Linked DNA regions of Homo sapiens. The protein of the gene in region 1 interacts with the protein of each later gene in a biochemical or structural test. Each region holds a gene or a part of one and is shown in the gene's direction. Other genes may lie near its edges.

Region 1 (7,025 bases):
CGACGCGCATGCCCGAGGTGAGCGGCGAGTGCAGCACCACCGCGGCACACTCGTAGCGCGAGGCCAGGTCCATGGTGGGCACCGTGCCGATGCTCTGCCCGTACAGGATGATGCTGTCCGGGCTGATGCCGTACCTGGCGGCGCCGGAGCAGGGTCAGCCGCGGCCTCCAACGCGCGCGCACCCTTCCCACCAGCGGGCGTCCCCGGGCCCAGCTCCGGATGCGACCCTCCAGTCTCCCCACTCAGCCAAGTCAGTGGGTCAGGCTCAGGCTCCACACCAGTCCCGAGGGCCACCCCCAGCCCCCAACACCGTGGCGGTGGGCGAAGCCAGCGGCCCCGCCCCGTTCCCTGCGCTGCCGTTCACTGGCGTTTCCTAGCTAGGATCTGCAGGGATCCTGCCTACGGAGTGCCCCTGGGGCGGGGGTAAGGGAGGCCCTGGCGCCTCTCCTCCTCCTGGTCACCCCTAGGTGCACACTGGGAACTGTGTGGCCCCCACATCCTGAATGCTTCATACCTTCCTGCCCGGGTTAGAAAGCCGTTCCTGGTGCACTGGCCAGGACAGCGGACACTCTTCCTCCCTGCAGCCCTTGCCCACCCCCTTGGCCATGAGGAATTCAGGCAGCTGTGTCCCCAAATGTCTCCACCCAATTTTGGACTCTCGGAGTCCCCACGCCCAGTGAGATGCCAGTGCAACCCAGGTCAGCATCGAGGGTGGTGGCTGCGGAGGTGGCACCCCCTCCCACCAGCACCTTCCCTTGGGAGTGGACAAGTCCTCGGCCACCTCAGCACCACCAGCTCCCACCCAGGGGCACCCTCACCCCCAGGTCATTGGTGTGCGGCCCCTGACCCAGCTGATCCAGCACCAGTTACAAGGCCTCCTCGTGCCCAGTCCCAAGCACGCGGGACCCACCTGCCACCCTGCCCATGCCGGGACCCCACAACTCTCCTCCCACACGCTCTAGGCTCTGATCCCAGGCAGACGCCCTCTTGCAAGGCAGGAGCATGGGCAGGTGTGCGTCCCCTCTGCCTGGCATTCGGACTCCACCAGCAGGGCTGTCCCCGTCCCTGGCCTGGAATCCCAGCCTCCTGGCAGCACTCCACAGCTCGCCACTCACCCATGCCCCAAAGGATGCTGCCTGGCTGGTGCCTGTGGCCCCAGCTCTGCCTCGGCCTCCCCGGCCTGCTCCCTGGCAGCCATGGTCAGTAGTGTGCTGAGCCAGCCCAGCCCTGCCACCTGCTACAGGCAGGAGCCCCCAGCTGCCACCTGGATGTCACCACTCAAACGAACGGGACACATCCCCAGTGGAGGCCCTGGGCACGCTCTGGCCTCCCCCTCATGGCTCTGGGCCTAGGTTCCTGCAGGACAAAGGGGCAGCAGGACAGATGGCCGAGCAGACAGAGCTCAGAGCTGGCCATGGCAGGTGTGACTCTGCCAGTGGCCCAGGCAGTAGAGACAGGAGGGGCCGAGGAAGCCGCATGAAGTGGTGATTGGTGTCAGCGTCCCACAACTGCCGGGAGGCCCCTGGAGCCAGGGTGGTGCCAGGGGACCAGCTCCCAGGCCCACAGCAGGGACTGCCTGCATATCACCAAGGCAACGACGACCCCACCTCCCTAGGGCCTCTGACTTCTCAGAGCTGTGCCTGGTCCCTGCGGGAGCAGGTCAGACCAGTGGGCTGGGCAGGGCCAGGACGAGACAGGCCCAGTGGATGGCGAGCAGGAAAAGCCACCAGAGGCCCAGCCGGGTCTCCTCGTCCAAAGCAGCACTGGCCCGGGCGCTGCTCAAACACCGGTGAAGGGCCCAGGCAAGCACAGGGCTGGGGACGTGGATGACTAGGAGGGCTGGATCTGGAATCGAGGCTGGCCCAGACCTCGGATGTGTGCTGCGGGTCTGCACCTTACCCTGTAGGCCCTGCCCCAGGATGGCCAAGCTCCGCAGCCACAGGGCCTCATGGGCCAGTCCTCCGGACCTGGATGCAGCAGCCTCGCCTCACTTGGCCCCAAGTGCTGCCTCAGCCGATGGGCTCCCAGCCACACGTGCACAGACCCCCAGACCACCACCCACTCCCTCCCGCCAGGTGGCATCCACACCCCTGTGACAAGCTCAGCCCCTTCCCATCCTCAGGCCAGGGGTTCCCAGGGAGCCTGGCTCCACAGGCCAGGGTGTGGGAGGACCGCCTGGCCACACCTCAGCCATGTGGAGGCGGCACCTGCACACCCAAGCTCGCCTGTCCGGCTCTCTGGCCCTGTGCATCCACTGTGGCTCCCCTCCTGCAGGGCCGCCCACCTTCCTCCCAGGGAAGCCCGCCCCCCGGCCCCCCGCCTGGTCCCCTCTTGGGTGTGCCCAGGCTGAGCTGCCCCCAGGGTCGCCCTCACCTGGTGCGCAGGGCCTGCCAGGTGGCGTCGATGTCGGCATAGAGGTTCCTCTCGGAAGGCCTGCCCGAGCTGGCACCGTAGCCGGAGGAGTCGTAGGTGAAGATGTTGCAGTGGAGGCGGGAGCCCAGGCCAATGTAGAAGCTGCTCATCTGGCCCAGGTCCACGGCATTGCCGTGCGAGAAGAGGACCGTGTACCTGGCACCAGGCACGCAGCGAACATACATGCAGGAGACACGGTTGCCGCGGGCGCTCTTGGTGGGGAAGACCTCGATGGTGTCCAGCTCGCGCTGGCTGTACTGGAAGTCGGCACGCTCCGTCAGGTGCAGCTTCCAGCGCCCGGGTGCGCCCGAGGAGGCTCTCAGGGTCCCCAAGGGGGCGGCCCCGGCCCCACCAGGCCCCAGCTCGGGCTCAGGCACCAGGGAGTAGGTGGCCTCCGGCGGCAGGAAGGCGAGCTTGGCAGCGATGCGGCCGGGGCAGGGAGGGCAGCAGAAGAGGCAGCAGAGCTCACTCAGCGACAGCCCGTTCATGGCGGGCGCCGCCCGGGCCGGGCCTCCACCGGGGCCCCCGCCAACAACGCCGCCCGGCCTGGCCCGGCAGGGGAGGGGTGGGGTGCTCCGAGTCGCGGGCAGGGGGGAGAGCGCCCCCCCAGCTACCGCCCCAGACAGCAGCCCCGTTAGGAGGCCAGGGCCCAGCCCCATCGCGGTCCAAGCCGAGCCCCAGGGAGCCTCGCAACCACAGGTCTCCATGTCGTGCCGTGGGAAGCCCACCCCGGCCCGCGCCCCCGGGCCCCAGGGCCGCGCTCCATGGCTCCCGGCCGCCCGCCCGTGCGTCCGTCGGTCCCTCCGCACCCCTGCCCCTAAATCTTTTTATCCAGTTTTCATTGATATGCTTTTCTGTTGATTTGTAATACTTTATTCTGGATATGCATCCTTTCTAGGATATATATGGATTGCATTTCTCTTTTTTCAATCTGCAGCTTGTGTTTTCACTCTTTTAATGACGTTTTTTCATGAATGGAGATTCTCTAATTTTTTTTCTTTTTGAGACAAGATCTCACTCTGTTGCCCAGGCTGGAGTGCAGTGGTACAATCACAGCTTAGTGCAACCTCGACCTCCCAAGGCTCAGGTGATGCTCCTGCCTCAGTCCCCAAGTAGCTGGGACCTACAGGAGACCACTACCATGCTCAGCTGTTTTTTGTATTTTTACTAGACATGGGGTTTTGCCATGTTGCATAGCCCGATACGGAATTCCTGGGCTCAAGTGACACCTGCCTCGGCCTCCCAAAGTGTTGGGATTATAGGCATGAGCTACCGCACCCGGCCAGAGTATCTTAATTTTAATGAAATATACTTTATCAATCTTTTCCTTTATGGTTACTGCTTATTGTGTCCTGTTTAAGAAATCAATGCCTGGCCAGGTGCGGTGGCTCATGCCTGTAATCCCAGCACTGTGGGAGGCCTAGGCAGGTGGATCACGAGGTCAGGAGTATGAAACCAGCCTGGCCAACATGGTGAAACCCCGTCTCTACTAAAAATACAAAAATTAGCTGGATGTGGTGGCGGGCACCTGTAATCCCAGCTACTCAGGAGGCTGAGGCAGGAGAATTGCTTGAACCCAGGAGGCGGAGGTTGCAGTGAGCCGAGATTACACTACTGTACTCCAGCCTGGTTGACAGAGCAAGACTCTGTCTTGTACCAAAAAAAAAAAAAAAAAAAAAAAGAAAGAAAAAAGAAATCAATGCCTAGCCTAAGAATATGAACACACTTTTCTATATTAACCTTATAGCAATTTTATTTTAGTTTTTGCATTTTTTTTTTTCAGACAGGGTCTTACTCTGTTGCCCAGGCTGAAGTGTGTTGGCATAATCTCAGCTCACTGCCACCTCCACCTCCTGGCTCAAGCAATCCTCCTGCCTCAGCCTCCTGAGTAGCTGCGACTATAGGCGTGTGCCACCATGCCTGGCTAATTTTTGTATTTTCTGTAGAGATGGGGATTCAACATGTTTCCCAGGTTGGTCTCAAACCCTTGGGCTCAAGTAGTCTGCTTGCTTCAGCCTCCCAAAGTGCTGGGATTACGGCATGCACCACCATGCCCAGCTAATTTTTTATTTTTTGTAGACAGGGTCTTCCTGTGGTGCCCAGACTAGTTTCAAACACTTGGGCTCAGTTGATTGTCACACCTTGGCATCCCAAAGTGTTGGGATTACAGGTGTGAGCCATCACATCTGGCCATTTTAGTTTTAATAATTTTTATATTTTTCTAATTTAAAACAGGTACTAAAATCTCTTACAGCTATTATTTGTAAATATAGTATTCATTATTGTTATTATTTTTTTTTGTATGTGTTCAATCTCATTTTCAATATAAGCTCCTGGAAATTAGAGATTTTGTTTCTTTTATTCACCACTGTATTCTCAGTACTTGACCTCGCCTGGCATGAAACAGATATTGAATAAATATTTGTTAAATGAATGAATGAATGAACATACTAATACCATATTCAGCAATCTCCAAGTGTCACGGTTTTCACCATCTAACAAATAAAATAGCTTGTATAGAGCAGAATCATAGTCAAGCTGCCATAAAAGGAAATGCCAATGAAAAATAAACCTTTGTATGTGTAGCTGCTAAGATTTTGGGGCTTTTGTTACTGCAGCATAACCTAGTGAAAGCTCAGTGAGACAGCCTGTAGAATATACGGGTACAGATAGACCAGATAGACCAGTAGATGAGATTCCAAAGAAGCATTAACTACGCCCACACACTCTTAATTCCCTAACAGAAAGAATCGAATTCTTGTTCACTAAGATCTACCTCAAATATTCCTTACTTTGTGAAAACTTCCCTGGCTACTCAAATATTTAGTCAGAACTCTATTTTTTTCCCCCCAGGCTGGAGTGCAGTGGTGCCATCATAGCTCACTAACCTCTAACTCAAGGCTCAAGGAATCCTCCTGCCTCAGCCTCCCGAGTAGCTGAGAGTGCAAGTGTGCGCCACCATGCTCGGCTAATTTCTCATTTTTTATTTTCAGAGATGGGGTCTTACTATGTTGCACAGGCTGGTGAGGACTGTTGATTACATATGACAGAAACCCAACCAACTCTAGTTCCCCACCACCTTTCAATCTGCTCCTGCCTGGGTCTTCCCAGTCTCGGTAAATGGCAGCTTCACCCTTCAAGTTGCCCAAGCCCCAAATCTCAATGTTAACCTTGATTTCTCTCTTTTATCTCATAGGCATTCTGAAGGCAAATCCTGTTTAGACCCAGGCAAAGGTTCCTGGTGACCCAGGCTCTCATGAGCAGATTGTCCCTTATCATTCTCCTGAGGATGTCTGGAGCTTCAGTGCTGTGTGCTCTTGGCCTCCACACTGGGGGTGCCACCAACTCCCACTGTCCAGGGCTTCTGGTGGACTCTCCGAGGCACCGATGTAGAAACTTACCCATTCAGTGCACCAAGAGCAGCTTCACATGGTGTGGGCCGACATGAAGAGCTGCCAGATCCAACAGGTAAAAATCCTGAGGCATTGCCAGCTCGATGGGGTCAGAGAGTCCTCTTTCTATTATGACTCAGATGTGAAGGGAAGATGCCAAGGGCCCTAAACATCACAGGGCCTTGCCTGGCATCAAACAGATATTAAATAAATATATGTTAAATGAATGAACAAATATTCACAGCGTGTGCCGCCCTGGACTTGCAGTGCCATGGTCGGGTGAAAGTGATTTTACTTCAGGAGAGGACATGTTCTCTTCAGGACTTTTCCTTGGTAGCTAGATCTGCATCCCTCTCCTCTCTCTTCCCCTCTCACCCCCCATTCTCTGCCCCCATTTCTCTCTCTGTTTCCACCCTGCTGTCCTCTTTCACCTGCTTTCTCCTCTTCAGCTTTCATGGCTCACCCCCTCCCTGTCCACCCGCATCCCCCAGGCTAAGGCTCTGCACTGTCCTGGGTGGGGAGATGTGTGTGGTTTTAGGCAGTGCCCTCTAGATGTGTCCAGGATGGGGAAACATGGCTCAGTTGCCAGTATAATGGGTTAAAAGAGAGACCACTTTTGAAGGCCGATCCCATCTCCCATTCCAGAATCCTGTAGGACTTAGAATTTATGGGCCACAGTGGAATTCTTGGTTCCCCAGGACCTTGTGGTGGACGCCTTCTTTCACTGACCATTCATGGGGTGACTATTAGGTACCATGCCCTGCTCTGGGCTAGAGGCCCCATAATGAGTAAATCTCAGGTCACTACCCCACGGAACCCACCACTGCAGGCATTGAGAGGGGGAGAAAGAAAGGGGCATGGCCTGTTTGTATCCTTCTCACGTGGCTGCCCACCAGGTCCTGGGGGAGTGGGAGCCAGTGCAAGGAGGGAAGTCCAGTGAGAATGACAAATGGACGATGTCAGACCCAGGGGCTGAGGCCCCCACCTGCAGCCGGGCAGCTTCTGGAGTGGACAAGGAGCAGCAGGGAAGGTTGCGGCCTGGTGTTCTGGGATCCACTGTCTCATCTCATTCTTTGGGGCACCAGAACTTATCCAAAGACAAGACTCAGTGTCTCTGGCAACAGCGGGCCAGAGGAATAATGTGTTTCAGAGGAGGAAGAAGGGGTTGTACCCCATGGAAACAGTATATAGTTTTACAGTAGTGCGTCTCTCTCTAATAAC
Region 2 (7,025 bases), on another chromosome or scaffold:
TTTGGGAGGCCAAGGCGGGCAGATCACAAGGTCAGGAGATCGAGACCATCCTGGCTAACACGGTGAAACCCCATCTCTACTAAAAATACAAAAAATTGCCCAGGTGTGGTGGCAGGCGCCTGTAGTCCCAGCTACTCGGGAGGCTGAGGCGGGAGAATGGTGTGAACCTGGGAGGCGGAGCTTGCAGTGAGCCGACATCGCACCACTGCACTCCAGCCCGGGCGACAGAGTGAGACTCTGTCTCAAAAAAAAAAAAAAAAAAAAAGAATGTGCCACAAATTATTTGGCTACACCCAAATTGTTTGGATTGTTTCTTATTTTTTACTGTTATCAACAATAGAGAACATTGGGTGTGAGCATGTCCAAGTCTTTCTGGAGTGTAAAATTTTAGAAGTAGAGTTGCTGTCCAAAAAGTGTACACATTGACAATTTTGCCAAGTTTTGAGTGCCCTTGAAAGAATTATAGCATCTTCTGATTCCACCAGTAATAACAGTGTCTTTTTCTTCACATCCTCATCAACCATGGGTATTATTCATCTTTTTAATTTTTGCCAATATGATGAGTGAAAATGCATTTTTTTAACTTTTTTTTTTTGAGATGGAGTGTTGCTCTGTCACCCAGGCTGGAGTGCAGTGGCGTGATCTTGGCTCACTGCAACCTCTGCCTCCCAGGTTCAAGTGATTCTCCTGTCTCAGCCCCCCGAGTAGCTGGGATTACAGGCTCATGCCACCGCGCCTGGCTAATTTTTGTGTTTTTAGTAGAGACGGGGTTTCACTGTGTTGGCCAGGCTGGTCCTGAACTCCTGACCTCAAGTGATCCACCTGCCTCGGCCTCCCAAAGTGCTGGGATTACAGGCATGAGCCACCACACCAGGCCGAAAATGCATCTTTTAATGATGTGCCTCACATGTTACTAATACAAGGATAAGTATATACATGTGTATATAGACACACACACACCATATGTATATACACGTATACCATATATGTGTGTGTACAGGTACATACACACACACACACACACACACGCAGACGCATATACACCTTCAGCCAACTGATCATGGCTATGCACCTTGGGAAAATTGGGAAACTACCCCAAACCCTAGCATTTTCATCTTTATTTATTTATTTATTTTTGAGACGGAGTTTCACTCTTGTTGCCCAGGCTGGAGCGCAATGACACGATCTCCCTCACCGCAGCCTCCACCTCCTGGGTTCAAGCGATTCTCCTGCCTCAGTCTCCAGAACTTTATTCATGGATATTCCTATTTTATTTTTGTTCTGTCCTTTACATAAGATTACAGACATAAGATTAATGCTTTTCCCTCTTCTAACCTCTTTCTCTTCTCCAGCAGAAACAGTGCCAGGGCCTTACAATGTGTTTTGGATGGTGACATAGCATCAACCCCCCTCTGCATCTTGGTCCCCACCCCGTCCCCTCCACTACCAAGCTGGAAGCACTCTGGTTTGTCCAAGTTCTAAAGTGCTGTGCCCAGGCCCAAATGCCATCCCCTAAGTTGCTGGTCTATGATTCTTTTTATTTTTATGATTTTATTTTAGTTTATTTTATTTTTGAGACAGAGTCTCGTTCTGTCACCCAGGCTGGAGCGCAGTGGTGTGTTCTCGGCTCACCGCAACCTCCGCCTCCCAGGTTCAAGCGTTTCTTGTGCCTCAGCCTCCCAGGCAGTTGGGATTACAGGTGAGCACCACCACTCCCGGCTAATTTTTGTACATTTTTAGTAGAGACAGGGTTTCACCATGTTGGCCAGACTGGTCTCGAACTTCTGACCTCAGGTGATCCACCTGCCTTGGCCTCCCAAAGTGCTGGGATTACAGGCGTGAGCCACTGTATGATTGTTTTTAATTCAAACACGTAACTACCAGGAAAGCTGTCATGAGCACATAACCCCAAATACCTTCATTTATTTATAAATTACATATACATATACTTATGTATTGTATGTTTTACATACATTCCAAAGAAGCTTCTTAACTTTTATCATTAATTTTAGTGAGATCAATTTCTCCCTTAATGAAAACAGCCTGGAAGTTTTTTTTCCTGTTCTCATTGGATACATATCTTGCTGATTGTGATGGATTCATACTTTGAATTCTCTTTTAATGATAATGGATATAAAACCTTGTTTCAAATAGTCTTGAAAAGATACCAACCCCTCCTCCTGCCTTTTTTGGCCCATTTCTTGTCAGATCCAGTTAACCCGTTACTGCTTTTATTTCATAATGTAGTGAAGGAAGACCTTACGCCCAGGAGGAGCAGTGAGAGGTCGGCTGTTTTCTTTTTGCTCACTTGTGCCGTCATTGTTGTTCTCTTCAGTCTATGGCTTCTTAGAAGGATTCTTTGTAAGCTGTGTGCGTGATATAAATTAAAATTGAATAATATAGGCCAGGCGTGGTGGCTCAGGCCTGTAATCCCAGCACTTTGAGAGGCCAAGTTGGGCCAGTCGCTTGAGCTCAGGAGTTCGTGACCAGCCTGGGCAACATGGCGAAACCCCGTCTCTACAAAAGACACAAAAATTAGCTGGGCCTAGTGGCGCGTGCCTGTGATCTCAGCTACTTGGGAAGCTGAGGTGGGAGAATCGCTTGAACCTGGGAGGTTGAGGCTGCAGTGAGCCGAGATCACGCCACTGCACTCTAGCCTGGGCAACAGAATGAGACTCTGTCTCAAAAAAAAAAATAAATAAATAAATAAAATAAAAAATTGGGTGATATATGGGGAAAAAAAGAACACTAACCCCTGTTTTACATCATATACAAATATTAATTCAAGATGAATTATAGTCACAAATGTGAAATGCAAACAATAATATTACCAGAAGTTAACAGAAAATATCATCATGACCTTGGGGTAGGCAATTTTTTTTGGGGGGCGGGGGACAGGATCTCACTCTGTCACCCAAGCTGGAGTGCAGTGTCATAATCTCAGCTCACTGCAACCTCTGGCTCCTGGGCGCAAGCAATCCTCCCACCTCTGCCTCCTGAATAGCTGGGACCACAGGCGTACACCACCATGCCCAGCTAATTTTTTGTATCTTTGGTAGAGACAGGGTTTTGTTTGCCATGTTGCCCAGGATGGTCTTGAACTCCTGGACTCAAGTTATTTGCCTGCCTCTGCCTCCCAAAGTGCTAGGATTTATAGGCATGAGGCACCATACCCAGCCTGGGGTAGGCAAACATTTTAAAAATACAATACAAGCACTAATCATTAAGAAATAATAATAAATTGGGCTGGGTGCAGTGGCTTATGCCTGTAATCCCAGCACTTTGGGAGGTCAGGAATTCAAGACCAGCCTGGCCAACATGGCGAAACACCATCTCTGCTAAAAGTACAAACATTAGTTGGGTGTGGTGGCAGGCGCCTGTAATCCCAGCTACTCAGGAGGCTGAGGCAGGAGAATTGCTTGAACCCAGGAAGCAGAGGTTGCAGTCAGCTGAGATCACATCACTGCCCTCCAGCCTGGGCGACAGAGTAAGACTTGATCTCAAAATAAATAAATAAATAAATAAATAATTGGATTTCATTATAATTAAGAACTTCTGGCTGGGAGCTGTGGCTCACACCTGTAATCTCAGCACTTTGGGAGGCCGAGGCAGGTGGATCACGAGGTCAAGAGATTGAGACCATCCTGGCCAACATGGTGAAACCCCGTCTCTACTAAAAATACACAAATTAGCTGGATGTGGTGGTGCGTGCCTATAGTCCTAGCTACCTGGGAGGCTGAAGCAGGAGAATCGCTTGAACCCGGGAGGCGGAGGTTGCATTAAGAAAGCAAAAAGAGGCCGGACGCGGTGGCCCACACCTGTAATCCCAGCACTTTGGGAGGCTGAGGTGGGTGGATCACCTGAGGTTGGGAGTTCGAGACCAGCCTGACCAACATAGAGAAACCCTGTCTCTACTAAAAATACAAAAATTAGCCGGGCGTGGTGGCGCATGCCTGTAATCTCAGCTACTTGGGAAGCTGAGGCAGGAGAATCACTTGAACCCGGGAGGTGGAGGTTGCGGTGTGCTGAGATGGCGCCATTGCACTTCAGCCTGGGCCACAAGAGCGAAACTCTGTCTCCAAAAAAAAAAAAAAAAAAGGAAAAAAAAAGAAAGCAAAAAGAGGTCGGGCGCAGTGGCTCATGACTGTAATTCCAGCACTTTAGGAGGCGGAGGTGGGTGGATCACTTGAGGTCAGGAGTTCGAGACCAGCCTGGCCAACATGGCAAAACCCCATCTCTACTAAAAACACAAAAATTAGCTGGGTTTAGTGGCAGGTGTGTGTAATCCCAGCTACTTGGGAGGTTGAGACAGGAGAATCTCTTGAACCTGGGAGGCAGAGGTTGCAGTGAGCCAAGATAGCACCACTGCACTCCAGCCTGGGTGACAGAGCGAGACTGTGTTTCAAAAAAAAAAAAGAAGGAGAAAGCAAAAAGAAAAAAGTGGGAGAAGATATTTTCAGTACTGTACATATATACAGTAGTGAAACTTGTATCCAGCGTATATAAATACCCTTACAAACCCTTACAAAATGAACATGATAGACAGCTCAATTTTAAAAAATGGCAAAAGAGGGCTGGGCGCGGTGGCTCATGCCTATAATCCTAGCACTTTGGGAGGCTGTGGCGGGCAGATTGCTTGAGGTCAGGAGTTCGAGACAAGCCTGGCCAGCATAGCGAAACCCTGTCTCTATTAAAAATACAAAAATTAGCTGGGCATGGTGGTGTGTTCCTGTAATCCCAGTTACTCGGGAGGCTGAGGCAGGAGAATCACTTGAACCTGGGAGGCAGAGGTTGCAGTGAGCTGAGATTGTGCCACTGCACTCCAGCCCGATGACAGAGGGAGACTCCATCTCAAAAAAAAAAAAAAAAAGCAAAATACATGAATAAGCATGCCACAAAAAAATCCATATATGTCCAAGGAGTATGTTAAATGATGCTCAACTTAATTAGTTATTTGGGAAAAGCAAATTAAACAATGCAACACCATTACATACCTGCCAGAATGGAAAAGATGAAAAAGAAAGTGCCAGATATTGACAAGGATCTCTTGCAAACTACAGATAGGAGTCTAAATTGGTACAATGACTTTGGAAAACCATTTGGCAGAATCTGTTAAAGCTAAATATATGAATGCTCTGTGACTCTATAGTTATACCCCTAAGTATGGAACCAGAAAAGTGTACATATGCATGTAGATATACATGCTCAAGTCTTATGTTCTTAGCAGTAGTTTTTTTTTTTCTTGAGACAGGGTCTTGCTCTGTTGCCCAGACTGAAGTGTGCAGTGGTGATCACAGCTCACTGCAGCCTCAAACTCCTGGGCTGAAGCAATCCTTCCACCTCAGCCTCCTGAGTAGCTAGGACTACAAGGGTACACCACCACGCCTGGCTGATTTTTCAATTTTTTGTAGAGATGAGGTCTCATTATGTTGCCTAGGCTGGTCTTGAACTCCTGGCATCAAGTGATCCTCCTGTCTTGGCCTCCCAAAGTGCTAGGATTACTGGCATAAGCCACCATGCCTGGCCTAGCAGCACTATTTTTGGTGGTCAAAAACTGGAAACAGGCCGGGTGTGGTGGTTCATACCTGTAATTCCAGCATTTTGGGAGGCTGAGGCAGGCAGATCACGTGAGCCCAAGAGTTCAAGACCAGACTAGGCAACATGACGAAACTCCCATCTCTATTAAAAATGCAGAAAATTAGCCAGCATGGTGGTGCGTGCCTATAGTCCCAGCTACCCATGAGGCTGAGATGGGAGGATCACCTGAGCCTGGGAGGTTGAGGCTACAGTGAACAGAGATGGTACCACTGCACTCCAACCTGGGGGACCAGAACGAGACCCTGTCTCAAGAAACACAAAACAAAACTGCAAACAGCTCAAATGTCCATCTTCTGTAGACAAGTAAATTTTGCTGTGTTTATACAATAGAATATTATCCAGCAATGCAAATGAACAAACTATAACTACACACAGCTGCATGGATAAATGTCAGAAACATGACGTTGAGTGTGAGAAGCCAGATGCAAACGAGGACTCACTGTGCAATTCTGTGCATGTACAGTGGCCAGGTGAGGCTTATGGAGTGCTGAAATGCTCTGTATCCCAATCTGGAGGGTGGTTTTAAAAAAATGTTTTGAGCCAGTGCGTTGGTTCACACCTGTAATTCCAGCACTTTGGGAGGCCAAGGTGGGCAGGTCACTTGAGGTCAGGAGTTCGAGACCAGCCTGGCCAACATGGTAAAACCCTGTCTCTACTAAAAATACAAAAATTAGCTGGGCATGGTGGCACACACCTGTAATCCCAGCTATTTACAAGGCTGAGGCACAGAGCAGGGCTCTGTCTCAAAAAAAAAAATCATAAATAAAAAATAAAATTTAAAAAATACTTGATTTTAATTTTTTTAGAGATGGGGGTCTCGCTGTGTCACTCAGGCTGGTCTTGAACTCTTGGGCTCAAGCAATCCTCTCACCTTGGCCTCCCAAAGTGCTGGGATTTCAGGTATAAACCACCACGCCTGGCCCTGGAGGGTGGTTATACTTGTGTAGTAAAAACTCATGAAACCTTACACTTATGATTTGTGGTAGACTTTTCTGTATTAATGTTATATATATATATATTTTTTTTTCTTTTTTAACCTTTTTTTGGTAGAGACGGGCCCTGCTAAGTTGCCCAGGCTGGTCTTGAACTCCTGTGCTCAAGTAATCCTCCCTCCCTGGCCTCCCAAAGTGCTAGGATTACAGGTGTGAGCCACTGCTCCCAGCCTAAATAAAAAGTTTGCTTCTCCCCTCCTTTTCTCCCCAAAAACCAGGGTGTTATCAGGAAATCTACTTAACTAGGCCTAGGTGAATTGCAATAGGTTGCATTATGCTAAAAGCAAATGTACAGGTTGGGGGGGTGTTGTTGTCAGCTCCGCCATGTCGTGGACCTGCCCCCTTTTCAGGACACCTCACGTCACCTTCCATAACAGAACAGGTAACGTGACATATGAGGTGCACTGTTGACAAGTGACACTGGTGACAAGTGAG

Evidence for each region.
Region 2: the proteins of NBPF11 (region 1) and CBY1 form a complex in vitro, tested with the Homo sapiens proteins (one study listed by BioGRID).

Annotation. Positions count from the first base shown.
Region 1 is NC_000001.11:148,142,270-148,149,294, reverse strand, and holds part of NBPF11 (NBPF family member NBPF11), read left to right. Parts: exon of another isoform or gene 1-134; intron 135-2,373; exon of another isoform or gene 2,374-3,229; intron 3,230-5,608; 5' UTR 5,609-5,880; intron 5,881-7,025.
Region 2 is NC_000022.11:38,659,618-38,666,642, forward strand, and holds part of CBY1 (protein chibby homolog 1), read left to right. Parts: intron 1-5,928; exon of another isoform or gene 5,929-6,068; intron 6,069-7,025. UniProt on the Homo sapiens protein: Inhibits the Wnt/Wingless pathway by binding to CTNNB1/beta-catenin and inhibiting beta-catenin-mediated transcriptional activation through competition with TCF/LEF transcription factors.